Linked DNA regions of Homo sapiens: region 1 is reported to be linked to region 2. Evidence: microRNA targets listed by miRTarBase, many of them from high-throughput screens and not tested one by one. Region 2 holds a microRNA gene; the other region holds the end of a gene's coding sequence.

The links. Region 2 holds the annotated microRNA hsa-miR-4659b-3p (UUUCUUCUUAGACAUGGCAGCU, at 3,293-3,314, shown strand). A microRNA usually pairs through its seed, bases 2 to 8, with sites in the 3' UTR of a target mRNA and lowers its output. Matches are read on the target gene's strand: a 7mer-m8 pairs with bases 2 to 8, a 7mer-A1 pairs with bases 2 to 7 and ends in A, and an 8mer does both.
Region 1: the mRNA of HBEGF is a reported target of hsa-miR-4659b-3p. Seed matches in the 3' UTR shown: 8mer at 2,243-2,250, 7mer-m8 at 2,395-2,401, 7mer-m8 at 2,398-2,404, 7mer-m8 at 2,401-2,407 and 7mer-A1 at 2,438-2,444.

What each region holds. Positions count from the first base shown.
Region 1 is chr5:140,328,026-140,336,330 of GRCh38, reverse strand. It overlaps HBEGF (heparin binding EGF like growth factor), which reads left to right. Exons shown (of 6, transcript NM_001945.3): 4 at 304-459; 5 at 1,583-1,673; 6 at 2,051-3,488. The coding sequence ends at 1,655. Among named protein-coding and RNA genes, the nearest start is that of HBEGF, 14 kb to the left of the region's middle.
Region 2 is chr8:6,740,184-6,748,488 of GRCh38, reverse strand. MIR4659B (microRNA 4659b) reads left to right here and starts at 3,249; the gene lies at 3,249-3,321. It overlaps AGPAT5 (1-acylglycerol-3-phosphate O-acyltransferase 5), which reads right to left. Exons shown (of 8, transcript NM_018361.5): 5 at 6,738-6,828; 6 at 661-819. It overlaps MIR4659A (microRNA 4659a), which reads right to left and starts at 3,325; the gene lies at 3,245-3,325. RefSeq lists enhancers at 15-164, 1,087-1,381, 1,983-2,032, 3,645-3,724, 3,755-4,034 and a silencer at 2,173-2,222.

The sequences.
Region 1 (8,305 bases), not on the chromosome of region 2:
ATCTAGCTGAGGCCTTCAAGTCCTCCCTTGCTTTTTCCATGCCTAGAACAGGATTCTCAGCCCAGAGAACCAGAGGAAATGGAAAAGGGGAGGGTGTCAAGTGAGAGAGGAATGCTACAGAGCTTTCAGAGGGGCTTTAAAGAGTTTTCTACTAGAGGAGAAGGATGGAGGATGGGCAGGGATCGTGGTCAGGGATTGACAGGCTGAGGGTATGAGGAATGGGGTTTGGCTTATGCAGGTGGGCCATTGCCAAGAGAGGCCAAAGCACTAACTCCATCTCCTTCTTGTTCTGTCTTGAACTAGCTGCCACCCGGGTTACCATGGAGAGAGGTGTCATGGGCTGAGCCTCCCAGTGGAAAATCGCTTATATACCTATGACCACACAACCATCCTGGCCGTGGTGGCTGTGGTGCTGTCATCTGTCTGTCTGCTGGTCATCGTGGGGCTTCTCATGTTTAGGTGAGTGTTGGGGTCCCCTGCAGGCTGTTTCTGCAAATCACTCCCTTTCTTCCTCCTCCTGGGCCCTCTCCTTGATGGTCACATGCACTTCCCTCAATCTTTCCAAATCATGGGCTAGCTCCGGGGTGTAGATTCTCCAAAAACCTGGTATTTCTGGCATGACATGAGTCCTGTGTCTAGAGCCCAGGGTCAAATTTGCGAGGCCATAGCAGGTTCTGCTCCTCACAGGAGTTCTTTTCCTGCCTCCATGACCCAGCTACCCACTCATGGAGTCACTTTGTCACACATTTCTTTCTCCTGGCTGTTCTTTGATGGCATTAGTATGTGGTTTGGTAGTCAAGGTGTGGGTGGTGCTAGTGGTATATCCTTCCACTTCTGAGGCGTCTGGACCTCAGGCCCTGCTTTCTAATCCAGGTATGCTCTAGCTTGGGAGACCCACCAAGCACTCTATGCCTGTTTTCTTTCTTTCTTTTTTTTTTTTTTTTTTTGAGACAGAGTCTTGCTCTGTCGCCCAGGCTGGAGTGCAGTGGTGTGATCTCGGCTCACTGCAAACTCCGCCTCCTGGGTTCACGCCATTCTCCTGCCTCAGCCTCCTGAGTAGCTGGGACTACAGGCACCCGCCACCACACCCAGCTAATTTTTTCTATTTTTTAGTAGAGACGGGGTTTCACCATGTTAGCCAGGATGGTCTCGATCTCCTGACCTCGTGATCTGCCCGCCTCGGCCTCCCAAAGTGCTGGGATTACAGGCATGAGCCACCGTGCCTAGCTCTATGCCTGTTTTCAAGCAGTGTAACTCATCTGTCATGAGACCTGGAACAAGTTACTGTCTTTCTGAGGATTGTAACCTTGTAGTGATTGTAATGTTTGTCCATCTACCTCATAAGGATGTTGTGAGGATCACGTAAATGAGGTGAAAGCTATTTGTAAATTGCATCCTGCTATTAGAGACAGGAGTTCCTCGGGGCAGTTGGGCCTTTGACCAGAGTTTGGGCTGCCCTACTGCCTGGGCTTTTCCAAGTAGTAGAGGAAACCACCATGGCAGAGTTCTTTGGAAGGACCTGCTCTGGACCTGCACTTTGTCATAGCAGGCAGGGCTTATTCACAAAACTTATCTTCCTCAGGTACCATAGGAGAGGAGGTTATGATGTGGAAAATGAAGAGAAAGTGAAGTTGGGCATGACTAATTCCCACTGAGAGAGACTTGTGCTCAAGGTAACGCTCCATCCTTTGCCCCATGACATGATTATCCTTTGTCCCCTTTCCTGGCTGTGCTTCAGTGGGTGCTGAATTCTTCATATAGGGGTTGGGGGCCAGGCTACTGTGACATTAATATCCCATTGCAGAATTATTTTCAAAAAGACTCAGTGCTTCACTTAAGGTAAAAGTTGCTAGAGAGACACCTAAGAGAGATGCCTGAGAGGACAGCTTCTCCCACCCTCATCCCCTCCCTTCCCCTCCCCTCTCCTCCCCTGGGAGACAGAGTGAAACCCTGTCTCAAAAAGTTTAAAAATAAAAAAGACTGGACCAGGAAAATCTTAAGACTTCTTTAGACTGGACCTGGCTTTACATGCCTTCCTTTTGTGCTTTAGGAATCGGCTGGGGACTGCTACCTCTGAGAAGACACAAGGTGATTTCAGACTGCAGAGGGGAAAGACTTCCATCTAGTCACAAAGACTCCTTCGTCCCCAGTTGCCGTCTAGGATTGGGCCTCCCATAATTGCTTTGCCAAAATACCAGAGCCTTCAAGTGCCAAACAGAGTATGTCCGATGGTATCTGGGTAAGAAGAAAGCAAAAGCAAGGGACCTTCATGCCCTTCTGATTCCCCTCCACCAAACCCCACTTCCCCTCATAAGTTTGTTTAAACACTTATCTTCTGGATTAGAATGCCGGTTAAATTCCATATGCTCCAGGATCTTTGACTGAAAAAAAAAAAGAAGAAGAAGAAGGAGAGCAAGAAGGAAAGATTTGTGAACTGGAAGAAAGCAACAAAGATTGAGAAGCCATGTACTCAAGTACCACCAAGGGATCTGCCATTGGGACCCTCCAGTGCTGGATTTGATGAGTTAACTGTGAAATACCACAAGCCTGAGAACTGAATTTTGGGACTTCTACCCAGATGGAAAAATAACAACTATTTTTGTTGTTGTTGTTTGTAAATGCCTCTTAAATTATATATTTATTTTATTCTATGTATGTTAATTTATTTAGTTTTTAACAATCTAACAATAATATTTCAAGTGCCTAGACTGTTACTTTGGCAATTTCCTGGCCCTCCACTCCTCATCCCCACAATCTGGCTTAGTGCCACCCACCTTTGCCACAAAGCTAGGATGGTTCTGTGACCCATCTGTAGTAATTTATTGTCTGTCTACATTTCTGCAGATCTTCCGTGGTCAGAGTGCCACTGCGGGAGCTCTGTATGGTCAGGATGTAGGGGTTAACTTGGTCAGAGCCACTCTATGAGTTGGACTTCAGTCTTGCCTAGGCGATTTTGTCTACCATTTGTGTTTTGAAAGCCCAAGGTGCTGATGTCAAAGTGTAACAGATATCAGTGTCTCCCCGTGTCCTCTCCCTGCCAAGTCTCAGAAGAGGTTGGGCTTCCATGCCTGTAGCTTTCCTGGTCCCTCACCCCCATGGCCCCAGGCCCACAGCGTGGGAACTCACTTTCCCTTGTGTCAAGACATTTCTCTAACTCCTGCCATTCTTCTGGTGCTACTCCATGCAGGGGTCAGTGCAGCAGAGGACAGTCTGGAGAAGGTATTAGCAAAGCAAAAGGCTGAGAAGGAACAGGGAACATTGGAGCTGACTGTTCTTGGTAACTGATTACCTGCCAATTGCTACCGAGAAGGTTGGAGGTGGGGAAGGCTTTGTATAATCCCACCCACCTCACCAAAACGATGAAGTTATGCTGTCATGGTCCTTTCTGGAAGTTTCTGGTGCCATTTCTGAACTGTTACAACTTGTATTTCCAAACCTGGTTCATATTTATACTTTGCAATCCAAATAAAGATAACCCTTATTCCATAGCCTTTTGTCTGTTTGTTTTAACCGGGAACTGGTTTAACTTAGTTATTTCCTAAGCCCTGACTTGGTGGTAGGCTCTATACCAGGCCTATTTATGTATACTACCACAACAATTCTGCGATGCAGGTACTATTACTGTCCCATTTTTCCAGAAGGGGAAACTGAGGCTCAAAGTGGTTGTGTAACTTGCCTGAGGATACACAGCTAGTAAATGACAGAGCTGGGACTAGTAGTCTGGCTCCAATTATTTTGTCTTAGTACTTATACCATGCTATCTCTGAGATAAGAAAGAACAGATCTTTCGCACAGCATGTTTAGCTGGCTGTAATCAGGGAAGATATCCACCCATTCAGTCAACAGGCCCTGGACTCAGGATCTACTCCTATGCTGCACATATGAGCAGGCATTGCTTCTGGCAAGAACAAGATGTCTTTGACTACCCTATCTTGCTCCACAGCCAATCCATCAGCAAATCTTGTCAGCCCTACCTTTAGAATACATGCTGTATGCAACCACTTCTCATCACTGCCACTACCATCACCCAGTCCAATTTCGCATCATCTCATGCCTGCACTTTTGTGATGGCCTCTGCCTTTCTAGTTCCATCTTGCTTCCATATAACATATTTCCAGTGTAATAGCCAGAGTGATCATGTCTTTCAGATCTTGTCTGCTCTGCAGGCCTTCCCTGACCACCGTATTAAACAACAGCACATTCCTTCTCCCATCCTACTCTTACTCTTCTTACATTGCTTTTTATCACCACTAACATATTCCTATTTGTTTATAGTCCATCTCCTCCTATGAAAATGTTAGCTCCATGAGGGTAGGGGTGTGTACATTGCTCCTCTCCTAGATTCTAAGACAATGCAATTGAGTGGTAGGCACTCAATATTTGTTACCTGGATGAATGAATGTAGGAAATACAATTCAGTCCAATGCCAGCAAGTGGACAGACATGCAATCCAATGCTGCCCTGAAAGTGTGATTGGATTAGAGAGGGGTCTCTGTTGGGGAATGTGGATGGTGGTGACAAAATGAAAGTGGAATTTGGGGCATGTCATGTGTCCTGGTGGATTGGACAGTCCATCAAGTGGACTGGGGCAGTGCAGTAGCACTGGACAAGTGCCACTGGGCTGCCCCTTCCTCATCCTCTTCCCTTGCAGAGTTGTGATATTCTGAAGTTTCTCCAGGAGCCCACACGGAGATCTTGTATATACTTGGAACATCCTTTCAAGACTTTAGGCACTAGTAACTATTGAAGCTGAACATATGCATACCCCAGGAGTAATTCCACTTCTGGGGATTCAAGAGAAATGAGTGCATATGTTCACCAGAAGATATGCACAAGAGGCTGGGCACTCTGGCTCAAGCCTGTAATCCCAGCACTTTAGGTGGCTGAGACAGGTGGATCATGAGGTCAGGAGTTCGAGACCAGCCTGGCCAGCATGGTGAGACCCCGTCTCTATTAAAAATACAAAAACTTAGCCAGTCATGGTGATATGTGGCTGTAGTCCCAGCTACTTTGGAGGCTGAGGCAGGAGAATTGCTTGAACCTGGCAGGTGGAGGTTGCAGTGAGTGGAGATCGCGCCATTGCACTCCAGCCTGGGCGACAGAGTGAGACTCCTTCTCAAAAAAAAAAAAAAAAAAAGATATGCACAACATTAATCCAAGCATTATTTATAATAACTAAAAACTGGAAACCATCCAAATACCCATCAGTATTTGATGATAAAAATGAATAAATTGGGGATATATCTATACAGTGAAGTACTAAATAGCAATAGGAATGAGTTGCAAAACATATTGCTCAGTGAAAGAAGCCAGATTCACAAAAAAGTATATACTGCGTGATTCCATTTACTTAAAATTTAAAAACAGGCAAAACTATGGTGAAAAAAAATCAGGAAAAAGACTCCCATCGTGATCAGTAAAGACTGGAAGAGAGGGACTTCTGGTGTTCTGATAAGTTGTGCCATGGTTGGGATGCGGGCTACACGAGCGTATTCACTTTGAGAAATTCACCAAATATGAATTTTTAGGGCCAGCTGTGGTGGGTCACATCTGTAATCTCAGCTCTTTGGAAGGCAGAGGCAGGAGGATCACTTGAGCCCAGGAGTTCAAGGCCAGCCTGGGCAACATGGTGAAACCCTGTTTCTACAAAAAATAAAAAAATTAGCCAGGCCAAGCGCGGTGGCCCACACCTGTAATCCCAGCACTTTGGGAGGCCGAGGCAGGTGGATCACCTAAGGTTAGGAGTTTGAGACCAGCCTGGCCAACATAGTGAAACCCCGTCTCTACTAAAAATACAAAAATTAGCCAGGCGTGGTGACAGACGCCTGTAATCCCAGCTACTTGGGAGGCTGAGGCAGGAGAATCTCTTGAACCTGGGAGACAGAAGTTTGCAGTGATCCGAGATCGCACCATTGCACTCCAGCCTGGGCAACAGAGTAAGATTCCATCTCAAAAAAAAAAAAAAAAAAAAAAAAAAATTAGCCAGGCATGATGGTGTGTGCTTGTAATCCCAGCTACTTGGGAGGCTGAGGCAGGAGGATCACTTCAGCCTAGGACGTTGAGGCTGCAGTGAGCTGTGTTGTACCACTGCACTCCAGCCTGGGTGACAGAGTGAGGCCCTGTCTAAAAAAAAAAAAAAAAAAAAAATTTAAAAACTTGAATAGGGAACTCCTTTGCTATTTGCATTGCATAAAGTTCTATGAAGTACCAATGTATTATCTGTGGTAATCAGAGAGAATAATAAAGACATCAGAAATAACTGGAGTAGTGAGTTACTTTGAACTCTCCTGGGGCTCCCTTTCCTGCTTCCAAGCTTTCAGTCTCAAGCTCTTGTCCTGAGCTGGGCTTTTCCAAGCACACTTTGTTTCTCCAGCTAATGTTTCCTGCAGGCTCAGGGCTTCCTGCCTTTCAACTGCTCGCTCCTCTACCCCTGTTTCTCATGGGAATTCCCTTCAGCAGAGGTCCTCTGGAGCTCCTCTGGGCATCTTCTTGGTTTATACAGTGGCCCTAGGAGCCTCTGAACCTGCAGCCATTTCTCAAGACGGGCTGTCAGAAGAAATCTGGCCCTCCCTGAGCACTAAAAAGCATCTACCTCTTCTCTCTGGGCTCCCCTTTCAGCCTCCTTTGAGAAACTTTCTTTTATAGTGTTCATAATAATCATTATTCGCTTAATAAACATTTAACATTTCATGGAATGCTCAGTATGTATCGCACACTGGGCTGCACACTTTACAGGCACTATCTCATTTACATCTCAACACAACTTACTGTATCCGTGTTATAGATGAGGAAAATTGAGAAGCAATTGAGAGATGTTAAATGTATGCCTAAGGAAAGTGGTAAAGGCAGAATGTAAACTCAAGGAGCCTAATTTTCAAACCTTCACTGTAAACACTAAGCTACATTCCTAAATGAGCTCTCTGTCCCACAGTTGTTTTCTCTTTTCCCATATCCAGAAATAATATGATGGAGAAATAATACTAACAGGAACTTAATGGCTGGACACAGTCGCTCACACCTGGATTCCTAGCACTTTGGGAGGCTGAGGCAGAATAATCACTTGAGGCCAGGAGTTCGAGGCCAGCCTGGGCAACATAGTGAGACCCTCATCTCTACCAGAAAAAAAAAAATGTAAACATTAGCCTGATGTGGTGGCATGTACCTGCAGTTCTAGCTACTTGGGAGGCTGAGGTGGGAGGATCCTTTGAGCCCAGGAGTTTGAGGTTGCAGTGAGCTATAATCACACTGCTGCACTCCAGCCTAGGCAACAGAGCAAGACCCTATCTCTTAAAAAAAAAAAAGAAAGAAAAAAAGAAAAAAGATCTTAGAGAGCAACTCCTTAGAGCTCAAGGGTTTCTGGGGCCAGAACAGTGGGTCATGTCTGTAATCCCAGCACTTTGGGAGGCTGAGGTGGGCAGATCATTTGAGGTCAGGAGTTTGAGACCAGGTTGGCCAACATGGTAAAACCCTGTCTCTACTAAAAATACAAAAATTAGCTGTGTGTGGTGCTGCACTCCTGTAATCCCAGGTACCTGAGAGGCTGAGGCAGGAGAATCACTTGAATTCGGGAGGCAGAGATTGCAGTGAGCCGAGATCGCACCACTGTAATCCAGTCTGGGTGACACAGCAAGACTCCATCTCAAAAAAAAAAGAGTTTCTTCTGTTGCCCCCAGTTAACAGATTCCTGAAAGGTGGCCCAAGAGGTCTTGTCAGGGGGAAGTGGAAGAAAACAGGAATGCAGACTGACCTAAACGTGTGGCTGAATCCAGCTCCCACTGTTATCAGGGAAGTGCCCTCACACGTGACACCTAACCTCTCTGAACCTGTCTCCCTGTCTATAAAATAGAGACACTAAAAATATTTACCTTAAAGAGTTGCAAAAATTTTATGTGTGCCTGGGCACAGTAGCTCATGCCTGTAATCCCAGCACTTTGGAAGGCCAAGGCAGGCGGATGGCTTGAGCTCAGGAGTTTGAGACCAGCTTGGGCAACATGGAAAAACCCCTCTCTACAAAAAATGCAAAAGCTAGACAGGCTTGGTGGAAAGCACCTGTAAGTCCCAGCTACTTGGGTTATTGAGGTGGGAGGATGGCTTGAGCCTGGGAGGTCGAGGCTGCAGTGAACCGTGATTGCAACACTGCACTCCAGCCTGGACAAGGGAGTGAAATCCTGTCTCAGAAAAATAAAAATTATATGTGTGAGTAAAGTGCCTAGCTCAGGGCCAGGCATGAGCTAGATACTCAGTTAATGTTGGTTATCTTAAGCGACCTGTCCAAGGAGCTAATTACTTACTGTAGTCTCACATC
Region 2 (8,305 bases):
AAGCCTAGTGTTCTCTCTCAACCCCAGCTCAAACAGATATTTTGAAAAGGAAACAGAAACTCCACACACTTCCCTGTTTGCCTATTTCCATGTTTACATTTCTCTAACAGCTAACACTATGTTTGGTTAGTTTAACTAAGTTATCCTGCTCACTTAAAATTCTATTTTTTTCTGGTTATATCTGACAATAGCTCAAAGGTTCTTAAAACCTAACATGTTTGGGGAAAAAAAAAGGTCACACTTAACTGCATTTCTTCTTGTCACAATGACACCCAAATTTAATAAATATTTTACGAAAAATACAGCAAAAGGGCAGCACTGACTAATAACGTGCACTCAGTACTGCCGGGCGTGCTCCTTCTTCACGTCTTCCTCCCTTTTACAGAGCTTTCCTTTTAAGTGTGAACTTTGAGTAGAAAGAGGCTGGATTAATGATAATTGGTGAGTCCACAGGACTCACACGACAGCCAAGAAATACCACACTTTGCAGGACTAATGAAATCTCCACTGTTACATCTTAATAACATCTTGAAAAATATACCGGGTAAATGTAATGAAGGAAAAAAGTACACTTAACCTACTTTGTAAAACTGAATTCTACATAAACATGTGCACTGTATATACCGTGTACAGGCATTTCAGGTGCGTGAACACACTTACCCGTCATGGTCGGTGACTCTCTTCGCTGCCCTCCATCGTCTTTCCCTTCATAAACCACCGTAACATCATAAATTGCATCTAAATAATTCTTCATGCAATCAAAAGCAACGTGAGTTGCCTTTATTCGTGGTGTTAGCACATGTTTTAATACTGCAAGGCCTAGAAGTCAATTCAGTGCCGTCATTAATTAGTTACAAAACACCTCCACAATATACTGTTTAACATCTAAATTATTTTTAAATTCCCTCAAACACACACAACAGAATCTATTAATTCCACAACCTCATATATTTAGGGCTCTAAGTTTAGAAAGCACTCTCACTTGCCTTTTTCTGTTTAAATCAATATTCATTTGCTATATATTGATCAAATATCTACATGTACAAGTCACCGTGTTGGAAGTTTATGGCCTAGCGGAAACGCTTCAATCTAGTAGACCCCGGCAAGGGTAAATATTAGTGCCCTCGCTTCTGGCCACTGAACAAAGGTGATAGCATCTTGCCCATGGTGACTCAAGATTTCCTAGAAATACAGTCACACAGCACATGGCCTCCTGTTTCTGGCTTCTTTCGCTCAGCATGGATCTGAGGTTCATCTGTGTGGCTGCAGGACTCAGTGCTTCATTCCTTTTTATGGCTGAATAGTTAGTATTCCACTGTGTGAACAGATCACATTTTGTTTACCTATTAATTGCTTCATGGACATTTGGGTTGCATCCATACTTTGGCTATTATGAATAATGCTGCTATGAACATTCATAGGAATTGCATATGAAGGCTGCAGGTGAACAAGCTTTTGTATGAACATACGATTTCAATCCTCTTGGGTATATCTGACATATTTTTAAAAGGTTCTTTAGCTGGGGGACTACTGCAATTATCCAGAACAAATCCCATTCATTAGGTTCCTACTAGGGTTAAGGATTTGTTCTTCTCTCCTTCCTATTACCTCCCTTTTCCTTGATTAAAATATTTACTGACAATTTAACAGAAAACAGTAGCTCTCAATAAGTGACATGAAAATAGACTATAAAAAACTAGTCTAGATTTTCTACTGGCCTCTCTGGAGGGAAAGTAGCTGAGTAAGGAAGAACAGCTATTACATGGTGGGACTGTCCCACACAAGAGGTTTTAAAATGCAGGGTGGTGTGGGAAAGACAAAGATTCCCACAAGCACGTATCTGACTTTAGTCCCCAGGGCAGGGGCAGTTAAATTGATTCACAAACTTGCAACAAAAATCTCAATCGCACACCAAGCTGGGAAGCATTTATTTGTCAGTTAAACTAGTTAACACTTCCTTCTTTGCTACTGGAGCTCATCCAACTTTATGAAGTCCAAAGTTTCAAAATATCACTCTGTGGTGTTCACTAAAACAACTAATTACTGGCATCCAAGTAAGTTAGTAAGGAAATAAAGACAGAAAGCTAGTATTTTTAAAACATAAAAGGAAATGAATTATCATGAATGTTTTAAAAAAATAGCTTTGTGACTAGGCTTCTGCTCCAGAACGCGTAGATAAAGCCACACCATAACTAGAAGGGGAATGGCCAAGAGGAAGACATGCAGAGCATGCCTGCGTGCACCCACCTGCCATGCAAAGATAAGTGGAAGAGCAGGAGGCAGGGAAACAAAGAGAACACGGAGCCGGGCGCGGTGGCACGTGTATGTCTGTAGTCCTAACTACTCAGGAGGACTGCTTTAGCCTGGAAGTTGGGGAGTGGGGGAGAGAAGGAAGAGAGGGAGGGAGAAGAATGCAGAAAGAAAAGAGAGAGAGGAGAGAAAGCAAGCAAGCAAGAGAGAACGAGTGAGGGAAGGAAGAAAGGGAGGGAGGGAAAGAAAAGAAGGAAGGGAGAGAGAGCGAAAGAAAGAAGGAAGAAAGAAGGGGGAGAGAGAACATGAGTTCAAATTGGGCATACTGAGGCTGAAGGAACAAAACATTCTAGAAGTAGTTGGAAATATGGTCTGTAAAATGGCAAGAATCAACCGAAGCTAAGCATGTGGAAACCATGGGAATGGATAACTGAAGTAATGGCAGTGGCTGAGAATAATAAAGGGCAGAAGATGAAAAGGCAAGAAATACAGACTCCGGAAACATCCACATTAAAAAAAAAAAGGTAAAAATAATAACAGGGAATACGACAACCCAGGAAATAAAAAAAGGGGGGAAACCAATGTAATACAAAAACAAAGGGAAGAGATGTTTAAAGGAAGAGGAGGTGATATTTATCTTCAACAAGAAAAATTATACTCCATTGTTTATTTCTACAATAAAGTTAAAATTATTTCCTGGTTATAAAGGTATAAATAATGTCAAAAGTTATGTGAAAGTTAACAAATATGACAACTGACACAAATGATACGATGCTTTGGAGGTCAGTGGTTAAGTGAGAAGTGGGATTCATTTCTGGAGAGTGGATGGAGTCAAACACAAGAAAGCAAGGGGCCCAGACTTCTCTTTGCACAGCTATAGACTTAGTTATTTCAGAATTGGAGTACATTTGCAAGCTGGGAGAAACCCCTGCAGAGAAGTAAGGCAGATGACTGAGGCAACGATGGAGACAGGGTAGACGGAATCAAGAGCTTAGAAACTGTTGACGTTGCCATGTCTAAGAAGAAAATTTTTCTCCAAAGTTTTCTTCTTAGACATGGCAGCTTCAGCAGTTTCTTCCAAAGAAATCCAAGTCAAGAGACTCCACATTAAGATTTTGAAATCAAAAGGGATATTGGGTGCACTCTTTCCAGAGAAATATAACTTTCTGAAAGCAAAAAATCCTTGAATGTGAAGAGAACAAAAATCCGTGAAAACCATGAGGTAGTCAAAAGGAGAAAAATAAAAGAACTGCTCCACACAGACTTGGCTCGGCTGAAATGAAATGGCCTGGCTTGGCTGCAGAAGGCAGTCAGCATTGATCTTACGATGTTCTCCACTGCTAAGGAAGGGAGAAAACAAACAGGGTTGCCAAGGGCTGAGGAAAGGCAGGGCAGGAACAGAACAGCCCAGCACTGGGATGGGCAGACCCCGGGGCTGGGGCAGACAAGAGCTGCAGAAGGCCCTGCAAGCTGCAGAAGGGCCAAGGAAAGAGAGATTAGAAATCAGCCAAAAACACAGGTTTAGAGCGAGTGAGGAGGAGGGAGAACCAGAGTCAGCTATATGGTGTGGGCGAGCCAGTGCCATTTCCAGATGAACTTCAAGGTGGTAAAAGCAGAGCACTGGACCCAGCACAGGACCTCGAACCAAGCACAGGATCCCAGACCAAGCACAGGACCCCGAACCAAGCACAGGACCCCGTACAGGAGAACAAGATCCCCCCAAGCCTCCACAAAGGACTGCAGCCCTGCCAACACCTTGATTTCAGCTGAGTAAGACCCATTTCAGACTTCTCAAATGTAAGAGAAGAAATCTGTGGTGTTTTAAGCCACCAAGTTTGTGGCCCTGCCTGAGAGCAGCCACAGGGAGCAAACACACCTTCTTAAGAGCGAGAGTGCCGTTACCACACAAAGCTGAGCACTAGCTTTCTTGTTTGCTATGCTTTCTCAGAAGTTGGCTTCAAAGTATTCATTTAATTTCTACTTCTTTGATTATGAGAAAGAATAAACATTTGTTCAAGTGTGTGGGTCATTTGTATCTCTTGAATTTCTTATTCATGCCCTTTTCCCATTTTTCTAGTTTATGTCTTTTCTAATTATGAAGCACTTTTGTAATATTAAGTATATTAATATCCTATATTATAAAATATTATTAGCTTGCCATTTGCCAACTAAATTTGTTCATATGATGTTTGAGACATAAAAATAATTTTTATTCAGTTAAGTCTACAAAGAAAAAAATTGCTTTGTAGCTTATTCCCTTTGTTCTCCTGTTTTGAAAGAACTCTCAAATCTCTACAATCGCCAGTGTTATTCACCCTATGAATAACATGGAAATTCTAGGTATCTGGTTTGCCATTATAGACACATCATTAAATTTCTGTTTTCTTTTAAGAGAGTTCAAAAAGCTTAAGTATGTCACCTTCGCTAGCAACTATGGTTTTAACCATGGCAATTAAAAAAAAAAAACCACCATAGGGGCTTACTTTAATGGGTCCAGGTGGCAGATTAAGATACATTTAATTCCACATCCCTTATAACCATTAGAAAGCCAAATACCTAAAACAAGTCTAAGGAAAATTAGTTAAAACAAAACCCTTCGAACAGCTGAGAAAAGTTTAAATATTACCACAGTGCCTGCACTTCTGCAGGACCCCATCTGAACAGCTTCTTCCTCCATGTCTAAGTTTCCTATAAGAGGTATGCAACTGCTATCAATTTGTTCTTTTTGTGAATAAAACTTAGGCAAAAAAACTGAATGATGGAGTTACCAAGACAAGAAATATGAGTGTATGCATGGAAGGATAAATTCTATCTTCAATATGCTGAGTTTGAGACATCCTTTTGGGCCAGTCAAGCGAAGCTCTCTAATGGACAATTGTACAAATGGGTCCAGAGTTAGGCAGAGAGACATGGAGGGGAGGAAGCTTTTGCGAGTCATCAGCAGTCAAGGAAACGATGGCTAAAGCCATGGATTTAGAGGAAGGCCACCATGAGAAACAAAAAGTGAAATTAATCAAACACCAAAACCTGACACTGGAAATAACACATGTAGCAGGGAGAAATGAAGCAGAAAGAGGCTGGAAAGGAGGCTAGGAAGTAATCGCCAGAGAGTTGGGAGGATAATGGAGAACAGCCCCACAGAAGTCTAGGGAGAGAATTTCAAATCAGACCAAAACAAATTGAGGGCAGAGTGAGTACTGGAAAAAGTGCTTACAACAAAGGTAGACTACAGATTCGAGAGTGGTTTTTGTTTTGTTCTGTTTAATAAATGTGAAAAGGGCAAAAGAGACAATGGCATTGCAAAAGAGCAACTGAAATGACAGAACGTCATGTCTATTAGACAGAGGAAGCAATGAAAGTCAAAAGAGAGCTGGCAGATGGGGAGACCAACTGAACCCTCCTATTCTGAAACACTCCTTACTTAATAGGACATGTGTTTAAAAACAAACTGGCATTTTTTAAAAGTACTGTTACAAATGATGTCATATACCTATGACATATCTGCTCTTGTAAGCACCTTGTAAAAACTCCCCCTTATTTTTAATTAAACTAAAATTAAATAAAATTAAAAATTAGTTTCATGCACTAGTCACATGTTGAATGCTCAAAAACCACATTGGTAGGAGCCAGCACACTGGACAGAACAGATGAAGAACTTTACCATTATTGCAGAAAGTTCCATTAGACAGCACTGTCATAGGCCCTGCTGTAATGTCACCAACAAGGTATTTGCTCAGTGAGTGACTATCAACATATGGAGATCACACACTAAATCACAGTCAAGCTTCAAAGACACCTCTAAGAACATAGCATAGCCACTGTTTTCTGTATACTTCCCAATTTGGTTAAATTGCATAGCTTATTGGTGTACCAATTATTCAATTTTCTAAAATATGGATATTAAGAACATTACCATTGTTGAAGACATTAACAGCTTCCAAGCACTGTGGACCAACTTTGTGTAACTTCTCCAATAGAAACTTGACATATTTTCTAATCTAATCCTCACACAGATTTAGATCTACTTATAAGGCATATGTTCTTTTAAGAGATGAAGAAGCAAGCTCAGCAACATTACACAACTTCCAAGTTGCAACCATACAGCTAATAAAAGTACGAGTTTGGACTCCAACTTAGGTCTGTCATCTTACAAAACAGAAGCTCCATTACATATAACCCATACACTGTAGAAAAAGCTTCCATCTACATAATCATGTACTTAGATAGATTTTAAATAAATCCATGGCACAAGAATATGTATCGTAACAAGCACTTCAACTTAATTTCTCAGATATATGTAATAATAGCATGAAAGTGAATTAAGGAGAAGAAACTTCATTTCCTAAGAGATAATATGTACACTAATTCAAGGAATGAATACATTCATTCCTTCAACTGTAAAACAAAAGTATCTTTTCCAGGAAGAAAAACTAAAAATGTTATTATCTTTGAAAATTATTTGTTCAAACACTCAAATTTTTACTTACCACGTTGGGCAGCAAATGCCTGACTAGCTGAAAGGACTTTTGTTTGCTCTGGATTATACCTTGTACCTTCTGGAAAAATCACAAGATACATCTGTGGGACATAGAGCAAATTTGGTTTATTTTGTGTGAGCTTTGTTTTTGTTATTGTTAACCTAAAAAAGCTAAACCTACTAATGCTAACAGAGTATTTCCTACAGTAGGAGAAAATGTATATTTATTTACATGTGACCTTCGTTTCAAGAGGGGCAAACAAAATGCAACAATTAAATATGAACATAACGTGAACTATATTTTAAATGCAGTGCTACATTCATTGGTAGGTCAGCCATGAAGAATCTAAAAACATTTCTAATTATATGCTAATAATTCACTAATTAAAAATAGGCCATGAAACGCTGACTCATACAAAGCCTCAATGAGTTTTTGCCCTTTCAGATCCTGTAATACGTCATTTTTAGAAATACAAATTTTAGAAATCAGTATCGTTAAGTACCAACACTAAAAAGTACCTCATTTGATGAAAATCATATAGTAAATTCCCACCATGTGAAACGTTCTAAATGTTCACATTCAAAAGCTTCACACAGAATTCCTATTTCACACAGCTCCTTTAGTGCATTTTAAATTTTATTTATAAGAAACCTCATTTGTTATATAAACTGAAACTAAAATAATATAAAGAAGAATATCAAGCTGGACGTTTAATAAGTAATCAATTAGTCTAAGTTTTTACGCTTATCTGCTTAGGAAAGTAAAAACAGAAACATTAAAATTATACAGCAAAAACTCCTAGCTTGAGAACTGAGTTACAAAAACTACACTAATAACTTTGATTGACAGCCAAAAGACAAAAATAAGTTATGCACACCAAATCTTTTCAAATACAAACAGAATACAGGAAACAAGACAGGAGCTCATGGGAGAAAACTACGTTTATTGGATTCATTCTTGCCAGATCTCAGACAGTACTCAGACAACACTGTCTACCTCTGTACGTCTGGTACAGAAGCCTTCCTTCATCTGGATGACCTATGATCATACAGCTCCTACTTAAAAACCTATGTGGTACTGAATTTTTTCTTTAGATACTGGTATAATGGTATCTAAAAATTTCGTACTTTCAGCTTCCACGCAAATATGCAAGCTTTTTGTTCATTCATATAATAGTCTTCAGAACCCACACCTAACTTAGAAATTAACAGATAATATTATATGTATCTTTATATTTAATAATTTATATTATTTTTAATAATTAATATTATTATTAAACAATAATTTATATGTATAATTATATTTAATAATGAAGATTCACCAGATCTGTTAAGAAAATGTAGAAAAGTGGGTACAATTAGGAAAAACATACAAAATTCCTTATTATATTATAGCAACTAGAAGGAAAAACAGGAAGACAAACATTAAAGCTAGTTCCAAACACCACACATTCATTTTCATGAAAATGTGTTTTGTAACAGTAAGGTTTATATTCAAAGCCATGAAAGCAATTACTGTGGGCTATCAGCTTTCAACTCAGTCATTTATAAATAAAACGATTATTTCTCAGGTTAATA